Regions from separate parts of the Homo sapiens genome. Here all the other regions are linked to region 3. Evidence: fine-mapped expression QTL. A gene starts in region 3. Each other region holds a variant in brackets. All regions are shown on one strand. Distances are from middle to middle.

What was found. PIP is the estimated chance that this variant, and not a neighbour inherited with it, causes the effect.
Region 1: its variant is fine-mapped to the expression of SPNS2 in whole blood (INTERVAL, PIP above 0.99).
Region 2: its variant is fine-mapped to the expression of SPNS2 in whole blood (TOPMed, PIP above 0.99).

What each region holds. Positions count from the first base shown.
Region 1 is chr17:4,421,391-4,429,157 of GRCh38, forward strand. No RefSeq gene overlaps it. Among named protein-coding and RNA genes, the nearest start is that of SPNS3, 8.7 kb to the right of the region's middle. The variant C/T (reference allele first, on the strand shown) is at 4,161.
Region 2 is chr17:4,531,603-4,539,369 of GRCh38, forward strand. SPNS2 (SPNS lysolipid transporter 2, sphingosine-1-phosphate) reads left to right here. Exons shown (of 13, transcript NM_001124758.3): 6 at 940-1,082; 7 at 1,375-1,527; 8 at 1,641-1,830; 9 at 2,186-2,251; 10 at 4,474-4,572; 11 at 4,661-4,824; 12 at 5,298-5,344; 13 at 5,851-7,433. The coding sequence ends at 5,340. MYBBP1A (MYB binding protein 1a) reads right to left here. Exons shown (of 26, transcript NM_014520.4): 26 at 7,302-7,767. Among named protein-coding and RNA genes, the nearest start is that of MYBBP1A, 20 kb to the right of the region's middle. The variant C/G (reference allele first, on the strand shown) is at 3,056.
Region 3 is chr17:4,494,635-4,502,401 of GRCh38, forward strand. SPNS2 (SPNS lysolipid transporter 2, sphingosine-1-phosphate) reads left to right here and starts at 4,247. Exons shown (of 13, transcript NM_001124758.3): 1 at 4,247-4,783. The coding sequence starts at 4,414. SPNS2-AS1 (SPNS2 antisense RNA 1) reads right to left here and starts at 4,101. Exons shown (of 3, transcript XR_001752763.2): 1 at 3,517-4,101; 2 at 2,908-3,081. RefSeq lists silencers at 4,040-4,099, 4,110-4,259, 4,320-4,369 and enhancers at 4,411-5,046, 5,047-5,681.

The DNA of each region.
Region 1 (7,767 bases), 73 kb before region 3:
CCGCCCGCCTCAGCCTCCTAAAGTGCTGGGATTATAGGCATGAGCCACTGCGCCCGGCTACCCTGTGGCCCCTTTCTTTCCCATTCTTCCTCAGAGACAGAGGCAGACTTCCCTGGCACCCACCTTCCCAGCTTCTCCTGCAGACGTGGCACCGACATGTGACTCAACCTGGCCAGTGGGCTGTGAGGGAGCACCAGCAGGGGAATTTCTAGGGCAGATTTTCCTCCCTAATAAATACACATGAACACATTTCAGGATGAATCTCCTACCTTCTTATATGTGAGACGACAAGCCTCAAGATGGAGACTGTGGTAGCCAGCCTGCAAGAAGATCTCGTGGCAGGGCGTGGTGGCTCAGGCTGGTAATCCCAGCACTTTGGGAGGCTGAAACGGGTGTATCACCTGAGGTCAGGTGTTCGAGACCAGCCTGGCCAACATGGAGAAACCCTGTCTCTACTAAAAATACAAAAATTAGCCGGGCGTGGTGGCAAGTGCCTGTAATCCCAGCTACTTCTGGGAGGCTGAGGCAGGAGAATTGCTTGAACCTGGGAGGCAGAGGTTGCAGTGAGCTGAGATTGCACCACTGCATTCCAGCTTGGGCGACAAGAGCAAAACGACATCTCAAAAACAAAGCAAAACAAAAAAAAAATTGGCTTGAATAAAATACATAAATCTTCTTTTTTTAAAAAAGATCTCCCGCAAGCTTTCCCTCCTGGTATTCATGCCCTTCCACATGGAGGGGCAGCAGAGAGTATGGGAACACAGAGCATAGACTGGCCTGTGTGGCCAATGGAATGCAGCTGAGTACAGACCTAGGAGTCCAGGTCAGGAAAGATGCAGGCCAGACGCAGTGGCTCACGCCTGTAATCCCAGCACTTTGAGAGGCCGAGGCAGCTGGATCACCTGAGGTCAGGAGTTCAAGACCAGCCTGGCCAACATGGTAAAACGCTGTCTCTACTAAAAATACAAAAACTAGCTGGGCGTCGTGGCATGCGCCTGTAATCCCAGTGACTCAGGAGGCTGAGGTGGGAGAATCGCTTGAACCCAAGAGATGGAGGTTGCAGCGAGTGGAGATTGTGCCAGTGCACTACGTCCTGGGTGACAGAGCAAGACTCTGTCTCAAAAAAAAAAAAAAAAAAAAAAAAGATGTTGCAGTTTCTGCCTTGGTCCCTAATGTATTGTTCCCCCTGCAGGAAACTAGCCACCATACCGTGAGGATGCTCAAGCAGTCCTGTGGAGGGACCCATCTAGACAGGAGCCAACAGGCAGCACCAACTTGCCTGCCACGTGAGTGAGGCCCCTTGGAAACAGAGCTCCCAGCCCCAGTTAAGACTTTAGGGGACTGCAGCCCTTCACGGCAACAAGAGACCCTGAGCCATAGTCCTGCATCTCAGCTGCTCCCAAATTCCTGACCACTGAAAAATGCAAGAGATAAATGACTACTGTTGTTTAAAGCCATGAGTTCTGGGGGGATTTGTTTTATAGCAATTAATTAAGTAATCAAAGGCCAACACTATAAAGATTTCAGGGGGGAAAGATGAAAAACACTGAGTTTTTTATGATGTCATGGAGCCACTGAGTTAATCAACCCTGAAACTGCCTACTTCTTGATTTGCAGTGCAAGAGAACGAATGAATGTCCTGGTTTGGCTGCTGTTACTTCTGCTGTTACTTGCGGACAAAAGCATCCTTATTGATTCATCACATAAAAGATGACTCCCTGGGGATTTCTGAAGAGTGATTCCTGGCCGGGCTCGGTGGCTCATGCCTATAATCCCAGCACTTTGGGAGGCCGAGGTGGGTGGATTACAAGGTCAGGAGATCTAGACCATCCTGGCTAACACAGTGAAACCCCGTCTCTACTAAAAATACAAAAAATTAGCTGGGTGTGGTGGCAGGTGCCTGTAGTCCCAGCTACTCAGGAGGCTGAGGCAGGAGAATGGCGTGAACCCGGGAGGTGGAGCTTGCAATGAGCCGAGACTGCACCACTGCACTCCAGCCTGGGTGACACAGGGAGACTCCATTTCAAAAAAAAAAAAAAGTGATTCCTGAGTGACTTCCTGTGACCTTCTTTTTTTTTTTTTTTTTGATTAAGGGTCTTGCTCTGTCACTGAGGCTGGAGTACAGTGATGCAATCACAGCTCGCTACAGCCTCAACCTCCTTGGCTCAAGCAATCCTGCAATCCTCCTGCCTCAACCTCCTGAGTAGCTGGGACTACAGGCACACCACCACCATGCCTGTCTAATTTTTTTTTTTTTTTTTGCAGCGATGGGGGCCTGTTGCCCAGGCTGGTCTCAAACTCCTGGGTTCAAACAATCCTCTCACCTTGGCCTCCCAAACTGTTGGAATTACAGGTGTGAACCACTGTGCCCAGCCTGTCACCTCCTATTCTGTGAGGCTGGACATTTCTTTTGTTAAAAAAAGGACATAAATTTAAACTCTGATGGGAGCCACTCTGGAAGGGTCTCCACTAAAAATCATCTCAAATGAGCTTTTTTTTTTTTTTTTTGAGATGGAGTTTTGCTCTTGTTGCCCAGGCTGGAGTGCAGTGGTGCGATCTTGGCTCACTGCAACCTCTGCCTACTGGGTTCAAGGGATTCTCCTGCCTCAGTCACCCAAGTAGCTGGGATTACAGGCACCACCACCATGCCCGGCTAATTTTTTTGTATTTTTAGTAGAGACGGGGTTTCACCATGTTGGCCAGGCTGGTCTCTATCTCCTGACCTCAGGTGATCTGCCCGCCCTGGCCTCCCAAAGTGCTGGGATTACAGGTGTGAGCCACCACGCCTGGCCCCCAATAAGCTTCTGTATCAGAATTCACGAGAAAAAGCAGCCAAATAAGCTATGACTGGCCAGTTCACAAGTTTGTCTTTGATGTGTTTTATTATTTTTATCTGAATGGAATTATCCTGGACATGGATTTTGTAGGCTCTTGTTTATTTTTCACCATCAAATTCTGAACGTCTTTCAGATCAACATAGACTAACATCATGTACAGGGCTGTCTGGTGCCCCATTGTAGGGAGGTACCATGATTTATTTATTAATTTAATTTTTTTTTTTTTGAGATGGAGTTTCGCTCTTGTTGCCCAGGCTGGAGTGCAATGGCAGGATCTCAGCTCACTGCAACCTCCGCCTCCAGGGTTCAAGCGATTCTCCTGCCTCAACCTCCCAAATAACTGGGATTACAGGCATGTGCCACCACGCCCGGCTAATTTTGTATTTTTAGTAGAGACGGGGTTTCTCTATGTTGGCCAGGATGGTCTCGAACTCCTGACTTCAGGTGATCCGCTTGCTTCGGCCTCCCAAGGTGCTGGGATTACAGGCATGAGCCACGGCGCCTGGCCTGGAGGTACCATAATTTATTTAACCAGCCTCTGAAGCTGGGAATCTAGAATGTTGTCACTGTTCTGATATTACAATAACCCCATTTACTTTTTTTTTAATTGTGGTAAAATAATATAGAATTTACAATTTAGCCTTTTTTTTTTTTTTGAAACAGAGTCTTGCTCTGTCGCCCTGACTGGGGTGCAGTGACGCGATCTCGGCTCACTGCAATCTCTGCCTGCCGAGTTCAAGCGATTCTCCTGCCTCAGCTTCCCAAGTAGCTGGGACTACAGGCATGTGCCACCACGCCCAACTAATTTTTGTATTTTGTATTTTTTTTGACAGAGTCTTGCTCTGTCACCCAGGCTGGAGTGCAGTGACATAATCTCAGCTTACTGCAAGCTGTGCCTCCCGGGTTCACGCCATTCTCCTGCCTCAGCCTCCCGAGTGGCTGGGACTACAGGCGCCTGCCACCATGCCTGGCTAATTTTGTTTTTGTATTTTTAGTAGAGACGGGGTTTCACCATGTCAGCCAGGATGGTCTCGATCTCCTGACCTCGTAATCCGCCCACCTCAGCCTCCCAAAGTGCTGGGATTACAGGCGTGAGCCACCGCGCCCGGCTAATTTTTGTATTTTTAGTAGACACGGGGCTTCACCATTTTGGTCAGGCCAGTCTTGAACTCCTGACCTCGGGTGATCCGCCTGCCTCAGCCTCCCAAAGTGCTGGGATTACAGGTGCGAGCCCCTGCGCCTGGCCTCAATTTAACCATTTTTAAGTGTAAAGCTCAGAGGTACTAAATGCACTCACGTTGTGCAACCATTACCACCCTCCAT[C/T]TGTGAAACTTTTTCATCATCCCCAACTGAAACTCTGTGCCCATTAAGCAATGACCCCATTTCTCACTCGCCCCCATTCAGTCCCTCCTAACCTCTATTCTACTTTTGGTCTCTGTAAATTCACATATTCTAGTCCAGGCGCCGTGGCTCTCATCTGTAATCCCAGTACCTTGAAAGGCCTGAGGTGGGCAGATTGCTTGAGCTCACGAGTTTGAGACCAGCCTTGGCAACGTGGCAAAACCCTGTCTCTACAAAAAATGCAAAAAATTAGCCAGCATGGTGGCGTGTGCCTGTAGTCCCAGCTACTCGGGAGGCAGAGGTGGGAGGATGGATTGAACCTGGGAGAAGGAAATTGCAATGAGCTGAGATTGTGCCACTGTACTCCAGCCTGGGTGACAGAGCCAGACCTTGTCATTCATAAATAAATAAATAAATGAATGAATAAAATAAATAAATGGCCGGGCGCGGTGGCTCAGGCTTGTAATCCCAGCACTTTGGGAGGCCAAGGCAGGAAGATCACCTGAGGTCAGAAGTTCGAGACCAGCCTGGCCAACATGGCAAAATCCCATCTCTACTAAAAATGCAAAAATTAGCTGGGCGTGGGGGGCACGTGCCTGTAATCCCAGCTACTCGGGAGGCTGAGGCAGGAGAATCGCTTGAACCCAGGAGGTGGAGGTTGCAGTGAGCTGAGATCGTTCCACTACACTCCAGCCTGGGTGACAGAGTGAGACTCCGTCTCAAAAAGAAACAAATAAATAAAATAAAATTAAAATTAATAATTAATTAAAAAATTCACTTATTCTATAAATCTCATATAAGTAGAATCATACAATCAATATTTATCTTTTGCATCTGGGTAATTTCACTCAGCATGATGTCTTCTTTTTTTTTTTTTTTTTTTGGAGACAGGGTTTTGCTCTGTCGCCCGGTCTGGAGTGCAATGGCACGATCGTAGCTCACTGCAGCGTCGAACTCCTGGCCTCAAGCCATCCTCCCACCTCAGCCTCCCCAGTAGCTGGTTTTAGAGGTGTGAGCCACCGCACCTGGCCAGTTGGATATATTCTAATGCTGCTCTCCTGGCTAACACCTAGCCTCCCTGACTTGCCCAACTCCTGGGAGTTCTGGCCTCAAGAACCCCTCCCTAGTCCCTGACTGGCTCTGAAAACCACCACAGCGTCTCTTTCTTGTTGGGTAAAGGTGAGGGCTGGACCCTGGAAAGGTCCTGTTTGGGGCAGCAGCTGCTAGGTGGGGGCTGCCAAGGTCCCCACTGCTGTGTGGTTTGCATGAGTGTGTGTGAGTGGGGGTGTGGGTGCTCGTGTGCCCACCTTCTCCTCATGCACTCACACTTGTGGATGTAGCTCTGCCCACTACTCTTTGGCTCTGAGGGCAGGGGCTGAGAACAAAGTTTCATCTACATGTGCTGGGGAAAACCCCATTATATTTAACACTCACAATACTTCCTCCATACCAAGCATAGTTCTAGGCACTTTTCAAACATCATCGTATTCAAGCCACAACAGTCCCATGAGGTGTGTACTATTTTTATCCCCATTTTATTTGTTTTATATTTATTTATTTTCAAGACAAGAGTCTTACTCTGTCGCCCAGGTGGGAGTGCAGTGGTGCGATCACGGCTCACTGCAGTCTTGATCTCCTGGGCTCAGGTGATCCTGGGATTACAGGCATGCACCACCATCCTTGGCTAATTTTTGTATCTGTATTTGTATTAAAAATTTTTTTTTTTAGTAGAGACGGGGTTTCACCATGTTGGTCAGGCTGGTCTCGAACTTCTGACCTCAGGTGATCCACCCGCCTCAGCCTCCCAAAGTGCTGGGATTACAGGCGTGAGCCACCGCGCCCGGCCTTAATTTTTACATTTTTAGTAGAGACGGGGTTTCGCCGTGTTGCCCAGGCTGATCTCCAACTCTGAACTCAAGCGATCTGCCTGTCCTGGCCTCCCAAAGTAATGGGATGACATTCACGAGCCACTGTGCCTGGCCATCCCCATTTTGTAGGTGAGAAAATTGAGATGGAGAGAGGTTGAGTGATCTGCCTGAGATCCTATGGCCAGTGAGCAGTGAGTCTAGCTGCGGAGTACAGGTTCTGAAGCAGGATGCGAGACCGCCTGCACGTGCGCATGGATGATCTTGAACTTCCCCTTCATTCACCAACTGTAGACCCCATGTGGGTGGTCACCGAGACGGTATGCGGCTGAACCAGGCAGTGGATGCCAAGGACCTCGTCATCATCGTCACCACCACAATAACAATACTCTACACTCTGTTTGTCACATGACAAGCTCTATGTTGGAAACAGTATGTGTATCTATATTAGTTCATCCTCACAATTAACCCCTGAAACATCGTCATATTATTCTCTTTTTAAGACTTACTGAGTCTTGCTCTTGTTGCCGAGGCTGGAGTACCATGGCGCAATCTCGGCTCACTGCAACCTCTACCTCCTGGGTTCAAGTGATTCTCCTGCCTCAGCCTCCCGAGTAGCTGGGATTACAGGCATGCACCACCACGCCCGGCTAAGTTTTTATATTTTTAGTAGAGACGGGGTTTCACCATGTTGGCCAGACTGGTTTCAAACTCCTGACCTCAGGTGATCTGCCTGCCTTGGCCTCCCAAAGTGCTGGGATTACAGGCATGAGCCACAACGCCCAACCCATCTTATTATTCTCTATCACAAATGAGAACACTGGTTGGGCGCAGTGGCTCGTGCCTTAATCCCAGCACTTTGGGAGGCCGAAGCAGGCAGATCACCTGAAGTCAGGAGTTCGAGACCAGCCTAGTCAGTATGGCGAAAGCCTGTCTCTACTAAAAATACAAAAAATTATCCAGGCGTGGTGGCTCACGCCTGTAATCCCGGCACTTTGGGAGGGCGAGGCAGGCAGAACACCTGAACTCAGGAATTCGAGACCAGCCCAGTCAGCATGACGAAATCCTGTCTCTACTAAAAATACAAAAAATTATCCACGCATGGTGGCTCATGCCTGTAATCTCAGCGCTTTGGGAGGCCAAGGCAGGCGGATCACCTGAAGTCAAGAATTCTAGACCAGCCTGGTCAGCAAGGCGAAAGCCTGTCTCTACTAAAAATACAAAAAATTATCTGGGCATGGCAGTGTGTGCCAGTAGTCCGAGCTATTCGGGAGGCTGAGGCAGGAGAATGGCTTGAACCCAGGAGGCGGAGGTTGCAGTGAGCTGAGATTGCACAGTTGCTCTCCAGCCTGGGGCGACTCTGTCTCTAAACAAGAAAACAAATGAGAACTCGGAGGCTCAGAGAGGTTAGAGACTTGCCTGAGGCACACAACTAGAAAGTAGCAAAATTTGATTTTGAATCCAGGCCGGTCAGACTGTAAAGCTCCTACTTTTTTGTTTGTTTGCTTTAACTTTTTTTTAAAGAAATAGGATCTTGCTGTGTTGCCCAGGTTGTTCTCAAACTCCTGGGCTCAAGCAATCCTCTTACTTCAGCCTCTCAAGTAGCTGAAACTATAGGCACGAGCCATCAAGCCCGGCTTCTTTAATGTTTTTTAAAAATTGAGGTAATTACATTACTTAAAATTGTAACCATTTTAAAGGATATAATTCAGTGGCATTGAGTG
Region 2 (7,767 bases), 37 kb after region 3:
CTCTCGGAGGAGCGGAAGCTTAAGACAAAGTGTTTTTTCCTAAAAGCAGGAAGGAAGCGGCCTCCGTGGAATTTCTTAGTGGGGTGGGGGGATGGGGAGGCGAGAGGGAGGTGGCAGGCAGAGGAACTCCCCAACCCAGGGGCTCCCAGTCCCGGGGGCATGGGGGAGAGTGTTCTGCGGGGCTGGTGAGATGGAATCCAGGCTGCCAGGGTGTTACCCTCCCACCCGGAGAGAAGCCTGGGGCCTTGGAGGTTCTGTTCTGGAAAATGGGCTGGAAACGGGGAAGATCCAAAAGGGCTCGGGAGCCTCTGTGGGGCCTGCATCGGGCCCCCACCAAATGCCAGCCCACTTGATCTGTCAGTCCAGCGCTTCATACCCAAACAGCACCTTCCCAGGGCCCTGCGGCTGAGGAACCTACGTGGGGAACCTGCTCCAGGAATTTTCTCCTCCCTCAAAGTCATCATCCCATCTGGCTATCTACTTATTTTCCATCCGTCTGTCCATCCATCCACCATCCGTCCGTCTATCTATCCGTTCATCCATCTGTCCATCCGTCTGTCCATCTGTCCATCTATCCGTCCATCCCTCCATCTATCTCTGTCCATCTCTCCATCAACCTCTTTAGCCATCTCTTCTCTATCTATCCACCCACTGCTCCACTCACCCACCCCTCCTTCTTCCTTCAGTCTGTCTGGCTTCCCTGCACCTTCCCACCTCTGGTCCTGCCCCTGGTCTGGACAGGCCATCTCAAGCCTCCAGTCTCTTGACCGACCTCAGCCCCAGCTTTTCTCAGCAGCCCAATTAGGAAGGCTGGGCAGATACCTGCTCAGAGGAGAAGCCTATGGCCCAGAGAAGGCATGGGCTTGCCTGAGTCCCTCCTTCTGCAGCAGGGACGAGGCTCACTGGGCCCTGGTGTCCTAACTTCCTGCTCTCTGGCAGGTGTCCCCTGTCCTGGGCATGATCACAGGAACACTCATCCTCATTCTGGTCCCAGCCACTAAAAGGGGTCATGCCGACCAGCTCGGGGACCAGCTCAAGGCCCGGACCTCATGGCTCCGAGATATGAAGGCCCTGATTCGAAAGTGAGTACCGCGGGAAGGGGTCTGGTGGGAAGAGAGAGGGGTGCTGAGATGAGAGGGCCTGTCCCTGCAGGGCAGCCCACTAGCACCCTCAGCCAGACACCCCACCTCTGCTGTCTCAGTGCTGGGAGGGACATTTTGGCCCCAGAATCGATTATTCCTGCAGCCTGAACCCTCACCCCTGGAGCCTGTAAGACGAGGCATTTGGGGGCCTCCTGTTCCCCCAGTGCATGGGGCTGCCTAGGGGGGTGAAGGAGGTCCCTGAGCTCAGTGTCACTGCCTGGCCTCTCCCCAGCCGCAGCTACGTCTTCTCCTCCCTGGCCACGTCGGCTGTCTCCTTCGCCACGGGGGCCCTGGGCATGTGGATCCCGCTCTACCTGCACCGCGCCCAAGTTGTGCAGAAGACAGCAGAGACGTGCAACAGCCCGCCCTGTGGGGCCAAGGACAGGTGGGGCCCCGCGGGGTGGGCCCAGGGCTGGTGAGGGACCTCGGACAGGAGAGCCCCTCAGCCTTAGCCCTGAGCCGCCTCAACTCGTGCGCCACCATCCTCTGTCCCCACAGCCTCATCTTTGGGGCCATCACCTGCTTTACGGGATTTCTGGGCGTGGTCACGGGGGCAGGAGCCACGCGCTGGTGCCGCCTGAAGACCCAGCGGGCCGACCCACTGGTGTGTGCCGTGGGCATGCTGGGCTCTGCCATCTTCATCTGCCTGATCTTCGTGGCTGCCAAGAGCAGCATCGTAGGAGCCTATGTGAGTGCAGCGGGGGTCAAGGGTGCTGGGGGAGCTGGGCCTGGGCCGCGGGAGGGTCTGGAACAGGACATTCGGTCTGACTTACTGGATGTTCCCTTCCCTCGGGGAGGCTCCTATTCTCTGGCTGCCCCTGCTCATCCCCAGCCTGGCCACACACAGCCTGTCCAGGGCCTCTGGGTGCCTCAGGGCCGTGGGCATGGCTTGAAGTCTCTGGATAGCCCATGAATGGATGTGGGCCCGGGAGGGGTGTGAGGTTTTGTGGGCTCCCTGCCAGCAGCCAGTGTGTAGGGAACAGAGACTGTGGTTGCTGCGGATGGAGGGACCGCTGATGGTGGCTTTGCCTTCTCCCCGGCAGATCTGTATCTTCGTCGGGGAGACGCTGCTGTTTTCTAACTGGGCCATCACTGCAGACATCCTCATGGTGAGCCAGGCAGGCCGAGGTCACCTTGTGCTGCTGACCCAGGCCTCTTGACCTCACAGGGGTGCCTGGGGAGGGCGGGTGAAGGGGCGGGAGAGCTGGTAGGAAGGCAGGCCTGCCAGGAACGTGAACCCAGAGGCAGGGAGGGGATCAGAGAGTTTGGGGTCTGCCTCTGGCCAGGGCTGGAAAACAGGGTTGGGCAGGCAGACAGAGCACCATGTGGAGACTGAGGGGGAGGGGGCATCTCGAGGCTCAGGTTAGTGGCTGGGAGGCTGGCGGTGCCAGGCTGGCACTGAGGTGGCGCTGCCTGCCCGCCCTCCTCCCCCCGCTGGGTCTGAGCATCCATAGGCTCTGCCCTCTCTACTCAGCCTGGCTCCCAGGCGTGCCTGCGGCTGGGGCTGGGCGGACAGAGGCTGTCTTCACAGGGCCAACAATGGGCTCTAGCCCAGCCAGCTGGGGACAAAGGGCTGTCTTGAGCGGCCAGCAGGGGCTTGTGTCCCTGGGTGGGGATGGGAGCACCCTGGGAGGAGCCAGGAGTGGAGCTAGGAGTTCATGGCCCTCTGGGCGTGGCAGGGGTGAGTGTGACACTTGGTCCTGTGCCCAAGGGTCAGCCTGGCCAGGGTCAGGAGGGGACAGGAGAGAGTGTCTGGGAGGTGTCAGGGCAGGCTCTGGGGCAGAGAGGAAGGACTCGGGTGGATTCTCAGGGTGCCCGGGTTTGGGTGCCCCAGCATGGGACAGCCCGGGAGATGAGTGTGCCAGGCACTGCGGCCCCTGCACTTCGGGAAGCCTGCCTTACCCCACCCTGAG[C/G]CTCCGGGCGTATCCGCTTCCCCCTGGGGTGGCTCTGTGTCCTCCCGAGTCCATGGGCTGCGGTGGTGGTGGGGAGGCCTGGCGCAGTTCAGAGCCTCAGCACGGAGCCAGGCGGTGGCAGGGGTGCGCCAGGGTCACTGCACAGGCCCAGAGTGAAGGGAGGAGTCCGTGCAGATTAAGTGCTCTTGGTGCTGGGCAGGACCCCCTCTCCTGCCTCCACCCCCAGGGAGCGCCTGACAGCTGCCGGCAGGGTCAGGGTCCCGGGGAAATCGCGTCCCGGTTTATTAAGTGTAACAGTTTATTCCTGCTGGAAACAGGGCCACTCGTTTCATCAGATTCAGGCCCTTTTCCACCCGCCCCCCACCTCTCCCGCAACGGGGTGCCCCGTGGGTGCTGGTTGCTTGCACACAATGCCCACTAAGGCTGGCACTCCAAAGAGGCGAGGCAGCTGGAGCTCGGGGAACAGGGGCTGCCTGGGCACCCACAGAGCTGGCTGTGCCTGTCCCGCCCCCACCCCAGCCCCTCCTGTCTGACTCTGGCCTGCCCAGCTTTGAAGCCAACCTCCTGTAGGTTGGGGCCTGCTTGGTCTGATGGGGGTCTGGGGCCCAGCAGTGCCGGCATTTGGTGCTGAGGGTGCCCGCGGGTGCGAGCGGAGGCTCTTGCAGGCAGGGGCCTGCCTCACCAGCTCCTGTCCCAGGCCAGTCGAGGCCTGGCTTGGTCCTCAGGGAGGGGAACCAAGATGGGTCTTTAGCTTGATGGGAGGTGAGGACAAATGGCTGTGGCGGGGGTTCAGGTTCCCTCGGGAACATGTGCCTCTCTAGACCTCAGTGTCCCCGTGACCCAGGTCCAAGGGCAGAAGCCAAGGCACCCTGGTCTCAGGAATGGAGCAGGAGCCGCGCTGGAGAGGCAGCAGCATGGCCGTTCCTGATGGCTCGGGTACTCCGAGGCTCGGAGGGCTCTGGGCTAATGGCCTCTAGTGACTGGCGCCTGGGCAACCCCCAAAGTATCATTCCTTAACTGCATGTAGCTGGGAGGGAGGTGAAGATTCCAATTTCAGAGGGGTGTGCTGGGGGCACAGCAGGTTTGAGGCCAATGACGCTTTCAGTATGGGGCAGGTCGCAGTGGTCTGGGTTGGAGGTGTGGAAGCCCCTGGGGTGAGGGTGACTGCAGCTGTGTGTGGGTGGGAGGGGCTCAGGGAGGAGAAGGGTGACTGGCAGGAGAGAAGCAGCCAGGCTGGTGGGGTGGGCAGTAGAGGGGACTGTGGGGAGGAGGGCAGGGCCCAGGGGAGAGAGGTGTCAAGACGTAGGGCAGGAGTGAGTCTGAGGGTGTGGGGGCTTCAGAAGTGCCACGGCCCGGGGCCAGGGCCAAGCGCGTGAGCCTTTCTCCTCTGGCCGCTGACCTGCCCGCCTGTTCCGCAGTACGTGGTCATCCCCACGCGGCGCGCCACTGCCGTGGCCTTGCAGAGCTTCACCTCCCACCTGCTGGGGGACGCCGGGAGCCCCTACCTCATTGGCTTTGTGAGTAGCCCCGGGGTGGGGCTGGCCAGGGCAGGCTGGGGGACTGCAGGAGGGCTCTGCCCTGACATCCACCCCCAAATCCTCGCAGATCTCAGACCTGATCCGCCAGAGCACTAAGGACTCCCCGCTCTGGGAGTTCCTGAGCCTGGGCTACGCGCTCATGCTCTGCCCTTTCGTCGTGGTCCTGGGCGGCATGTTCTTCCTCGCCACTGCGCTCTTCTTCGTCAGCGACCGCGCCAGGGCTGAGCAGCAGTGAGTGGGGGGGAGGGGAGGCCCTGCTGCACCGCCGGGAAGCAGGGACCGTGATAGCCACCGTGAGCCCTGCCCTGGGGTGGGGCGGGGAGGGTACAGACCTCCCATGCACTCAGTGCACCCACTGGTTGCTGGGGTCCAGCCCTGAGGCCCAGTGCCAGGGTCAGCCTGGAGCTGTGGGAGGCCACGGGGGTGTCTGGTGGATCCAGACTTGGGTTTGTCTCTGGACTTAGTGGTTTTCAAAGCTGGGGCCCCTCCCCTTCCTCTTACTTTCTGACTTCTTTCTCCTTTCCTCTTTACTCCTCTCTCTCTCCTCTCCCCACCCCTGGGCTCTCCCATCTCCCCCTGGGGCTGACGAGGTCCCTGCCCAGCACCTCCGGTCAGCTGGCCCCCACGACACGATGTGCCAGAGCAGTGCCCGGGCCCGGCCCCCGCTGATGCACCACCCTGACCCCCGCCCGTCTCTCCCCCAGGGTGAACCAGCTGGCGATGCCGCCCGCATCTGTGAAAGTCTGAGGTGGTGAGTGCAGGCCGGGAGGCACGTGGGGGCTCCCTAAGGAAAGGGGAAGGCCAGGGTTAGGCAACAGGGAGCACTTTTCCTCCAGAGTCACCTCCTACCCCAGCACATCCCACCAACTCTGGGCTTTGTCTCTGAAGATGTTGCCAGAATTTACTGATGGAGCCATGGGTGGGACAGCAGGCTGCTCCTTCCAGTAAATTAGCTCCCCTTTCCTTCCTTTCAAGGGCTGGGTGGGGCCTCGCATAGATCAGGGCCAGGACTGGCCAGGAACTCCTCACTCTGTCCGGACTTCTGTTCTCCCAAATCCTCCTGGATGTACCAGGGCCTGACTCCTTGGCCCTTCCCTCTGGGAGTTATAGCTTCCCAGCAGCACGAGACCCAGGGTCACAGCTGCAGGTCCAGGAGAAGGCTTGCGTCTCCAAACAGCAAGAAAAGGGAAGGAGGGAGGGCAGCCTTGGCACAGGCCCCACTAAGCCCCACTGCTGACCTGACACCCCTTTCCCCAGGTGCCATTGGGACAATGAAGAACCCACACTCCCACCTCGTCTGGGAGGTGTCCTACAGCGTCCGGGACCGGCTGGGCTGCCCCAAAGCTTTCTGTGTGATCCACGGCTAGGCACCCACCCTCTCTGGCCCAGGCCTGCTGAGTGGCCCTGGCATCAAGAAGAGGCTGTGTCCTCAGTTACCCTGGAAGGATGTGTGTGTTGGAGCCACACGGTTGGACAGGTTCCCAGCCCTAGGTTTGGGCCGCAGGGCCCCTGGGGCCAAGGAAGAAGACAGCCCCAAGTGGGTGTCCGGGGAGAGCCTGGCCTGCCACCAGCTTATGTGATCTTGGGCAAGTCCCTGCCCTCCCTGGAACGAAGGGCCAGGGGGCTGGACTTTCCCACACAACTTGCTGGGCAAAGCACGATCTGCAGCTTTGAAGACTCAACAGACCCTGGACCATACGGAGAGCAGGTGGCCCAGGCCTCAGGGCGGCAGTCCCGGCTTTGAGGCTCACGCGAGGGCCTGGTATGCAGGGACCACTGCTCAGCTGGGCCTCGGACCTTGGGGATATTGGACGCAACCTGGCAAATGAAGCTGGGCGCCCAAGTCTCTGGGTACTCCCTGGAGGACACTGTCTCACTGTCTCGGGTTGGCTCCCAGCCTGGAGGTCCCAGATGGGGACTGTTCTGACAAGCTGGCATCACCAGGGGTGAAGGCCCTGGCTGCAGCTGTACACCACCTGTGCCCCCAGGCTCAAGGTCTCTGGCAGGTGCACACCAGCCCAACTCTGCAGGGCTTCTCTCCCTGCCACCACCCCCCAAGCCAGGACCCCACTCCTTCCCCGAGGCTGAGCTGAGCCTTTTCCAGGGGCAGGGCCCAGGAGACCATTCCCAGAATCCATGGGGCAGTAGCCAGGGCTCCGGCTGCTGGAGGAAGCAGCTATCCACAAAGCTTCCTGCCCCAGAGCTGAGGCTGAGGCCCCGGGAGAGGCGGCCCCTACCCAAACACTGGCTGCTGGCATTCCACCAAGTGACCCCAGGGGGGGGCCAGGCCTTCGATCACCCACCTCCCATCCATGCACACACCAGGATGCAGCTGCCAACTTCACACCAGCCCCAACCCGCTTTGGGGGAGCTTAGCCCCCTGCGTCACCCACTCCCTGCACTTCTGCTGCAATCAAGGTGGTTCTGGTGCGGGGGTGGGGTGGGGGGTGAGGCCTTGTGGCCAATGGGGGACCCCCCAAGAGCCAGCTTGGACAATGCTCTTCTTGCCCCTTAGTTACTGGCTGGCTGTGGCTTCAGTGGTGTGTAAGCAGGTGGAATACTCACCCACCAAGCTCTGGGGTACCCCGAGGGCCTGACAAGAGGATGGGGTGGGGGTGGCATCCTCCAAAGACCAGCCTCCACCCCCACTCCAGCCTCAGCGGGGCCCCAGCGATGTTTTCTTGTTGTACAAGAACCAGGTCCGAGTGTTGCCTCCTCTTCCTTCCGGAAGCCAAACTGCTCCTTTATTTTTTAGAGCTGCTGATTGTGAATCTCAGAGTCTTAAGAGAGAAGCCAAATATATTCCTCTTGTAAATGAAGAAATAAACCTATTTAAATCACCCCCTGGTGGCTCCCTCACAGCAAAAAAGCCTGGGGGCAAAGAGGTGGCAGGCACGAGAGATGGTCACACCTGCCTGCAGCCAGCACATCAACCTGCACCAACCCAGGCAAACACCAGAGCCCTGGACATGGCCCTGGAGCCAGGGTCCCAGCCCAGAACCGGGGGTGGGGAGGTCTCTGCACCCTGGGACCCCTGCAGGAATGGCTCAGGCTGTGCTTGCCAGAGCAGGATGCCCGGGCAGGCGGCAACAGCCACCCTCCCCAGTGGCAGCGCCTTAGAAACAGCTTGCGTATTAAAATCATGGTTTAAAAAAAAAAAAAAAAAATAGGCGT
Region 3 (7,767 bases):
GGTGTTTTTGACAAAAGATAAATGATACCAGAGTGGGAGCAGGTTGGGGGAAGGATGACAAGTTCAGTTTCAAATGTGCTGAGCCTAAGGTACATGTGGGATATCTGGTGGGGGGCACGTGTAGGAGGCTGCATATGGATCTCGTGTTTGGAGATGAGGCCCTGTCTAGAGATGGAGGTTGGGGTGTCATAGTCACATGGATGATCATTGAAAGTTGAGGCCACAGCTGCACATGGTGCTCACCCCTCTAACCCCAGCATTTTGGTAGGCTGAGGTGGGAGGATCACTTGAGCCCTAGAGTTTGAGACCAGCCTGGTCAACATAGTGAGACCTTTTTCCTAAAAAAAAAATTGCTGGGTGTGGTGGTGCACGCTTATAGTCCCAGCCTTTTGGGAAGCTGAGGTGTGGATCCTCAGGAGAGGAAGACTCTTCTTTTTTATATATATATTTTTATTTTTTATTATTATTTTTTTCTTCCTGAGATGGAGTCTTGCTCTGTCACCCAGGCTGGAATATGAAAGTCTCCGTTTCTCTGTCTTTGCTCCTGTCTGTCTTGGCTCTCTTTTTTTTGTTTTTTGTTTTTTTGTTTTTTGTTGTTGTTGTTGTTTTGAGACAGAGTCTCACTCTGTCACCCACGCTGGAGTGCAGTGGTGTGATCTCGGCTCACTACAACCTCCGCCTCCTGGGTTCAAGCAATTCTCCTCCCAAGTAGCTGGGATGACAGGCGCATGCCACCACACCCAGCTAATTTTTGTGTTTTCACTAGAGATGGGGTTTCTCCATGTTGGCTAGGCTGATCTTGAATTCCTGACCTCAAGTGATCTGCTCGCCTTGGCCTCCCAAAGTGCTGGGATTACAGGCATGAGCCACCGCGCCCAGCATCAGGAAGCCCCTTCTTAAGGAGGATCCCTTGAGCCCAAGAGGTCAAAGTTATGATGAGCTATGATTGCACCACTGCGTTCCAGCCTGGGTGACAGAGAGAGACCCTGCCTCTTAAAAATTTTTTCAAAAAAAGTAAATTTCAGGCCTAGGTGAGAGGCTGCCAAGGGGGAAGGGAAACAACCGAGGCCTGAGCCCTGGAGACACTCCCATGTGGGAGGATGGGCAGAGGGCAGATGGGCTGAGCTCCCAATTACCAGCCAAGGAGGAGCAAGTGCATTCTAGGCCAGTGTTTCTCAGAGTGTGTCCTGCAGAGCTCTCGTCTTGCAAGACATTCTGTGGTCACACACACCTGGGAACGTGGCATCCTATATCTCCCTCTGGGAGACTCAGAGCATGTATTCTCATAGTAAAGGCTCTCAAAAGTCCCTAAGGAAACCTACTTTTCTGTGTTTATCCCACTACTTCCCAAGTATGACTGCTCTTTGAATAATGGCCATTAATGTTCTGTGCCCCATTTTTTTCTTTTTTGTGTGTGTTCTTTTCTTTTTTTCCCCCCACTTTTGTTTTTTGTTTTTGTTTTTGTTTTTGAGATGGAGTCTCACTCTGTCACCGAGGCTGGAGTGCAGTGGCATGATCTTGGCTCACTGCAACCTCTGCCTCCCAAGTTCAAGCAATTCTCCTGCCTCAGCCTCCTAAGTAGCTGGGATTACAGGCGCGCCCCACCACGCCTGGCTAATTTTTGTATTTTTAGTAGAGACCGGGTTTCACCATGTTGGCCAGGCTGGTCTCGAACTCCTGACCTCAGGTGATCCACCCACCTCGGCCTCCCAAAGTGCTGGCATTACAGGTATGAGCCACCACGCCGGCCCCCATTTGTTTTGAAGCTGTGATCTAGACCTAATGAATGAATATCAGAAGGTCCTTTAGCCACGGAGTTCAGCCTCCTGTTATACTGATGAAGAAACAGAATCCCGCCCAGTCTGAGGGCAGCGTGCAGTGGAGGAAGTGCTGGATTAGAGGGTAAACACACCTGGGTTTAGTCCATGCACTGTCATTTACCAGGTGTTCGACCTTGGGCAAATTACTTCTTTTCCCTGGGCCTCAGTTTCTTCATTGGCGAGATGGAGGAAAGAACCCTACCAGTCCTCTGTCTGACAGCCCCAGGTTACTGCCAGAGCTTCTCAGAAGGCTGTAGGGATTTGTCCTGGGCTGCACAACCAGAAAGGGCTTCTTGTCCTCCCTGTCCCTCTGCCCTTGGTGGCCCCTTATCCCACACAAGGACTTATTCTAGAGGCTGCCTTTGAGTTGAAACCCCAGTGAAACACAGTGGGAAGGGCTGGCTTGCTTGGTGGCAGCTCAGAGGTCCCCCAGGTTTGAAAGGCTCATGCCACCCTCTTCCCCTGCTCTGGGACCTTCCCAGTGGTGAAAAGGGAAGGCAGCAGAAAGAGAATGCTCCCCTTTCTGTCAAGGCCGAAAGTGTCCACCTGGACAGGACTGTGGCCAAAGGGATGAGGAGTTTTGGGGCACGGGAAGGGGACCCTGGGCTTGGGTCTAGAGTTGTGGTTGTGCCTCCTTCACCACTAGACACAGTTCCACAGCTGGGCAGCCTCCCACAGCTGGACTCTGTCCACCTGCTGGCACCATCACACACTTACGAGATCATTGCTGGGGCCGGGTTCTAGCCCCACGGAGCTCCTAGCTCTCTGTCCTTGTTTGTTAATCACCCGTCATGCCAGGCCACCATGGGGAACTCCCCCCATCCGCCTTTGCAGGCCTGAGCTCAGCGAGCTGGAAAGAGGCAGCAGGCAACTTTGAGAATGAAATCTGTTTTCCTAACCCTCCCGTCACAGTCATTCATACCCAGCACGCTGAAGCATATTTTTAGTCACTTTGCAGAATTTAAAATACACCTCGAAGGCGCCAAGAAACACCAGCTTGGGGATTAACTCTGCTCACAAGAGACAGTGGAGGGGGGCGGGGGGGGTGCCTCGTGCTGTGTCACCCGTTGGCTATGCCATGACTCACTGTGGCCGAAAGCTTCACCAGATGCACCTGCCTGTGGACGTGGGGTCCGGAAAAGCCTCTAGCGGGGAGTGAGCTCCAGCCCTCGGGGATGATGCCAGAGCCTGGGGCAGCTCCAGCCCTGCCACAGCTTCACTGCCTGTTCGTAATGGGTCACGTCCGTGCCCTGGGACTTGTCTGTGAAACACAGGGAATGATTAACTGGTTTCCGAGGGTTTGTCCAGTTCTAACATTCTGTCCTCTGCACTTTATACAGGATTTTAATTTCGATTTTAATTCCCCAAACAGGTGAATGGGGGAGGGAAGGGGGAGATCGTCACAGAGCCACAGCACCTCTAAGGAGGGGTGAAACCGTGATGGGATGTCAGGAACACAGAAGCACCCCAACCACTCTCCATAGGAGGCAGACCCCCGCCCCGTCCCACCAAGGGGAGGTGACCACCCGTGGATTTCCAGACTGAATCCCATCCTGCCATCTGCCCCCAGATACAGAAATGGAGGCCCAGAGAGTGGGTGTCATGTTCAGGATCATGCCACACACCAGGGCAGAGCTGAGCTAGGACCCAGCCTCCTGTCTGCCACTGGGGGCTTTGTACCCTCTCTAGCACATACCTGGAAGTCTGAAGCTTGGAGATGTGGTCCCTCAGGAGGGAAAGCCCCTTCTGAATATCCTGTTTCTGTTGGGCCCCAATCACAGCCCTTGCTCTCCCCGCCAGGGGCTGCGGGCCACTCTGTGGGGCAAGGGTAGGGTCCGGGTGCCCACACAGGAATGGGCCCGGGGTAGGTTGGGGGCTGGATCTGGGTTGCCCTGGGGAGGTGGGAGACACAGCCCACCATGACTGGTGGAGGTCTAGGTTCTGGGCCCTCCCTGAACTGGTTAAATCCGGGCGTGTGAGTATCGGAGGAGCCACCGGCTCTCCAACTGGCGCCCCTGACTTTAGCCATCTGAGACTCCTCTCTCCAGTTCTCCCAGATACGCTAGGCTCAAGCCCTCAGCCCGGCTCCCAGAGCCTCCGCCGGGAGTCCACGCCCGAGGCAGGGGTTGGGTGAAGGGTACTGAGTAGGTGCTGGGAGCCCCGTCACCAGCACCCTGCTCCCAGCTCCGTAGCCAGAGCAAACCCTCTCCCGCTCCCCGCGGGCGTTCGCGGCCGGTCGGCCCCGGCGTGACTGCGCCCCCATTGGCAGGAGGGGCTCTGCCGCCCGGGCCCCCAGTCCCCGGGCCCCCCACCCCCAGGGCAGCACGTGCGGGGCGGGGCTGTGGCCCGAGCCCGGAGCTGATTGGGCGCGGGCCTGGTGGGCGGGGCCGGGCCGCAGCTGTCAGAGCCGCGGCGGCGAACGAGGCGCAGCGAGCTGAGCGGTGGCAGCGCCGCAGCCGGGGCCGGAGCGCAGGAGCCGACGGGGCCCGACCAGGATGGTGCAGTGGCGGCTCCGCGGCGCACGCACGCGCTGAGCGGGCCCAGCCTGGGCCCCGCGCCCCCCGCGCCCCCCGCCGCCCCGATCCGGGCCGGCATGATGTGCCTGGAATGCGCCTCGGCGGCGGCGGGCGGCGCGGAGGAGGAGGAGGCGGACGCGGAGCGGCGGCGCCGGCGCCGGGGGGCGCAGCGAGGGGCTGGCGGTAGCGGTTGCTGCGGGGCGCGGGGCGCGGGCGGCGCTGGAGTCTCGGCCGCGGGCGATGAGGTGCAGACGCTGTCGGGCAGCGTAAGGCGGGCCCCGACCGGACCCCCCGGCACCCCCGGCACCCCCGGCTGCGCAGCTACTGCAAAGGGCCCCGGCGCTCAGCAGCCCAAACCGGCCAGCTTGGGCCGCGGGCGGGGGGCAGCCGCCGCCATCCTCAGCTTGGGCAACGTGCTCAACTACCTGGACAGGTACACCGTGGCAGGTGAGCGAGTGCCCCACCCAGCCCGAGGACCAAGACCCCACCCCATCCCACCACCCGCCTCGAGGGAGGTACCCCAGAGAGCTTTTGGTCTCAGGCCTGCTATCTCCAGGCCCTACGTGAGGTCCCTACGGACCCTCTGCTCAGGCACAACTGGGCAAGGGATGCCTCCGTGCACCACGGGTACAATCCAGCTCCCCGCTCATACACACCCGGGGCCAAGGGATAGAGGAGTCCCCACCCCTGGAGCAGCCCGCGCGTCCTCTCCAGCCCTTGACGGCCCATCCGTTGTCCTCCTCTCCAAGAGTCTCCTCTGCGTCTCTCTGTCTCCTTGTCTCTGCGCCCCCTCCGACCCCAGCTGCCGGTTCCCGGGCCTCCTTCCCTTCCCTTCCCCCAGCCCAGGTCGTCTGTCCGTCCATGGCCCGTCAGTTCCTTCCTTTCTCCGCCGCCTCCACCCCCCTGCGTGCGTGCGGCGAGTGCGCGCGCCCCTTGCGGGTGTGCGCTAGGGAGACCGGGTGTGTGTGCGCGTGGCGGCGCGGTTGTGTGTGAGCGCGTGGCTGACAAAGGCTCCGGGCTGCGGGGAGCGGAGGGAGGGGCGGGGCGGGTCCGCGGCGCCTGGGGACCCAGGCTGCGGTTTGCAGCTGGCCCTGTACAGAGGCCTGGAGACGCCTCCCCCTGCTCTATGGTGCTTGGGGTGTAGGGTAGGGCGCAGGCCTCTGGAGCTAGAGACGTGGAGCCTCATCCTCAGGGAGCATCTCTGGGAATCAGCCTTGGGGACGGGATTGGGATCGATAGAACAACTGGGTTCTAGCCCCAGCTTTGCTCCTAATGTGCTTGGTGTGTGACCTTGGGCCAGTCTCAGCGTGTGTTTAGGTCTGTTTGCCCGTTTGTGAGTTGATTGATCATTGGGCCTTTGGGGGACGCACGTGGTTCTGGAATTGCCTTCTGCTGGCTCCCTTCCCCAGCAATTAGGGGTGGGTCTAGGGGTAAGAATTTGCCCTAGACTGAGCTGCTACTGGTTGGGAATGGTGGAGCTTTGAGAGGGAAGGACTTTGGCCAGACTGGCATAGGAAGGGGCTCCCTGCAGGAGGAGAGCAGTACTGTGTGCCTGGCATGCTGGCCCAGAACCTGCGTAACTATAGCTTAGTAAAATCTGGAGCTATCAAACACACACACAACAGAGAGAGAGAGGAGATAGGAGAGAGGGAAGGATTTATTTTTGGACAGACTCTAAAGAGAACTTTGCGGCAATTGAGGGAAGAGAGCCCGGGCATAAACCACATGCCACCTGGTGCCTTCTCTGGGCCTCAGTCTCCCCGTCTGTTGAATGGAGTTTTGTGTCAAATGGAAGGGAAGAATTCTGATGGGAGGGCAGAGGCTTCCCCCTCCCCCCATTCCTGCTTTCAACCCCCCTTGGCTCTCTGTCCTTCCGCTGGAGGAAATTGGAAGTGGGTACCAGTGGCATCAGTTTCTGGGTCGAGCTATCCCAAAGAGAAACTTACTTTGGTCTAGAGAGCAGGAATATTGAGCACCTCCCAAAAACGCCAGCCGCTGTCACGCATGCACCATGCTGCCGGGGACCTGGGAGCATAAGCGCCATCCTTTGGGGGAGAAATCAGAGAATACCTGGGACCTGTAGTCAGTTCACAAAAGGCTTCTGTACACAGATAGGGGGACCAATGTCCCTGTACAGCCCCCGTTCAAGATGGCCAGGAAAGTGACTGGCAAAGCTGGTGTTAGCTCTAACAGTAAGGCTCTGCCTGGGAGGAGGTCTTCCCACCCTTTCTCAGCTGAAGAAGGAATGGTACTACTTCTGGCACTGTAGCGCTCTCCAACTTGTTTTTTTTCTGGCCCCAGACCACCCCCTTTGACGTTCTTAGGGGAACTGCCTCTGCCAGGGGCAGAGCCAGAGAGGGTGGGATCAGGGAGGGCTGGCACTTATCTGCTCCCACTTCTACTCAGGTCTCTGAGTCAGATTGTCAGCATGGGGGAATGAGATAGGAAATTTGTGGTGAATTGGTAAAGGGAGGTGGGGAGTGGTGGCTAAGAGGGGCGTGGGGCAGTTAGGGAGGAAGGCCCGGAAAGTCCTGTGCAAACACTTGCCTGGGCTGTGCCTCCCTCCCTCTCCTGGCCTGGAGTGGGAGCTCACACACCACCCCACCCCCAACACACAACAGACACAGGTTTCCTCTCCGGATAAGCCTGGTTGCCCCTCTCTCTATGGTAGATTTCCCCATCTCCACTTCCCCAAGTTCAGTTTTTAGGAATATTTATTATCTCTATGGTAACTACTATGGCTTGATGTGCTAGGGCCAGGGGAGTGCTCATCCCAGGCCTGAGTGCACCTGTTGCTGGCTGGCCCAGCTGGGACAGAGATGGGGATGCAGAGACTCAATTGCTCAGTCTTTGATGCTTGCACCTACCTGGCCCCAGCTCCCCACCAAAGATGGAAGGGAGGTCCCACTCTCCTTCTTTAACTCTGTCCTTTAAATCTGTTTTTTCATAGTGTAGACCAGCTTTGTCCAAAAGAAATATAATGTAAGCCACATATTCCTGTCAAATTTTCTGGTAGCCGGACTAAAATAGTACAAGAAATAGGTGTGATTAATTCATAATATATTTTATTTAACTCAATATATCCAACATATTTCAACATGTAATCAATATAAAAGTTGTTAGGGCTGGGCGCGGTGGCTCACGCCTGTAAACCCAGCACTTTGGGAGGTCGAGGCGGGTGGATCACCTGAGGTCGGAAGTTCGAGACCAGCCTGGTCAACATGGTGAAACCCCCCATCTCTACTAAAGTAAATACAAAAATTAGCTAGCATGGTGGTGCACACCTGTAGTCCCAGCTACTCGGGAGGCTGAGGCAGGATAATCGCTTGAACCCAGGAGGTGGAGGTTGCATTGAGCCAAGATCGCGCCACTGTACTCCAGCCTGGGTGACAGAGTGAGGCTCTGTCTCAAAAAAAAAAAAAAAATTATAC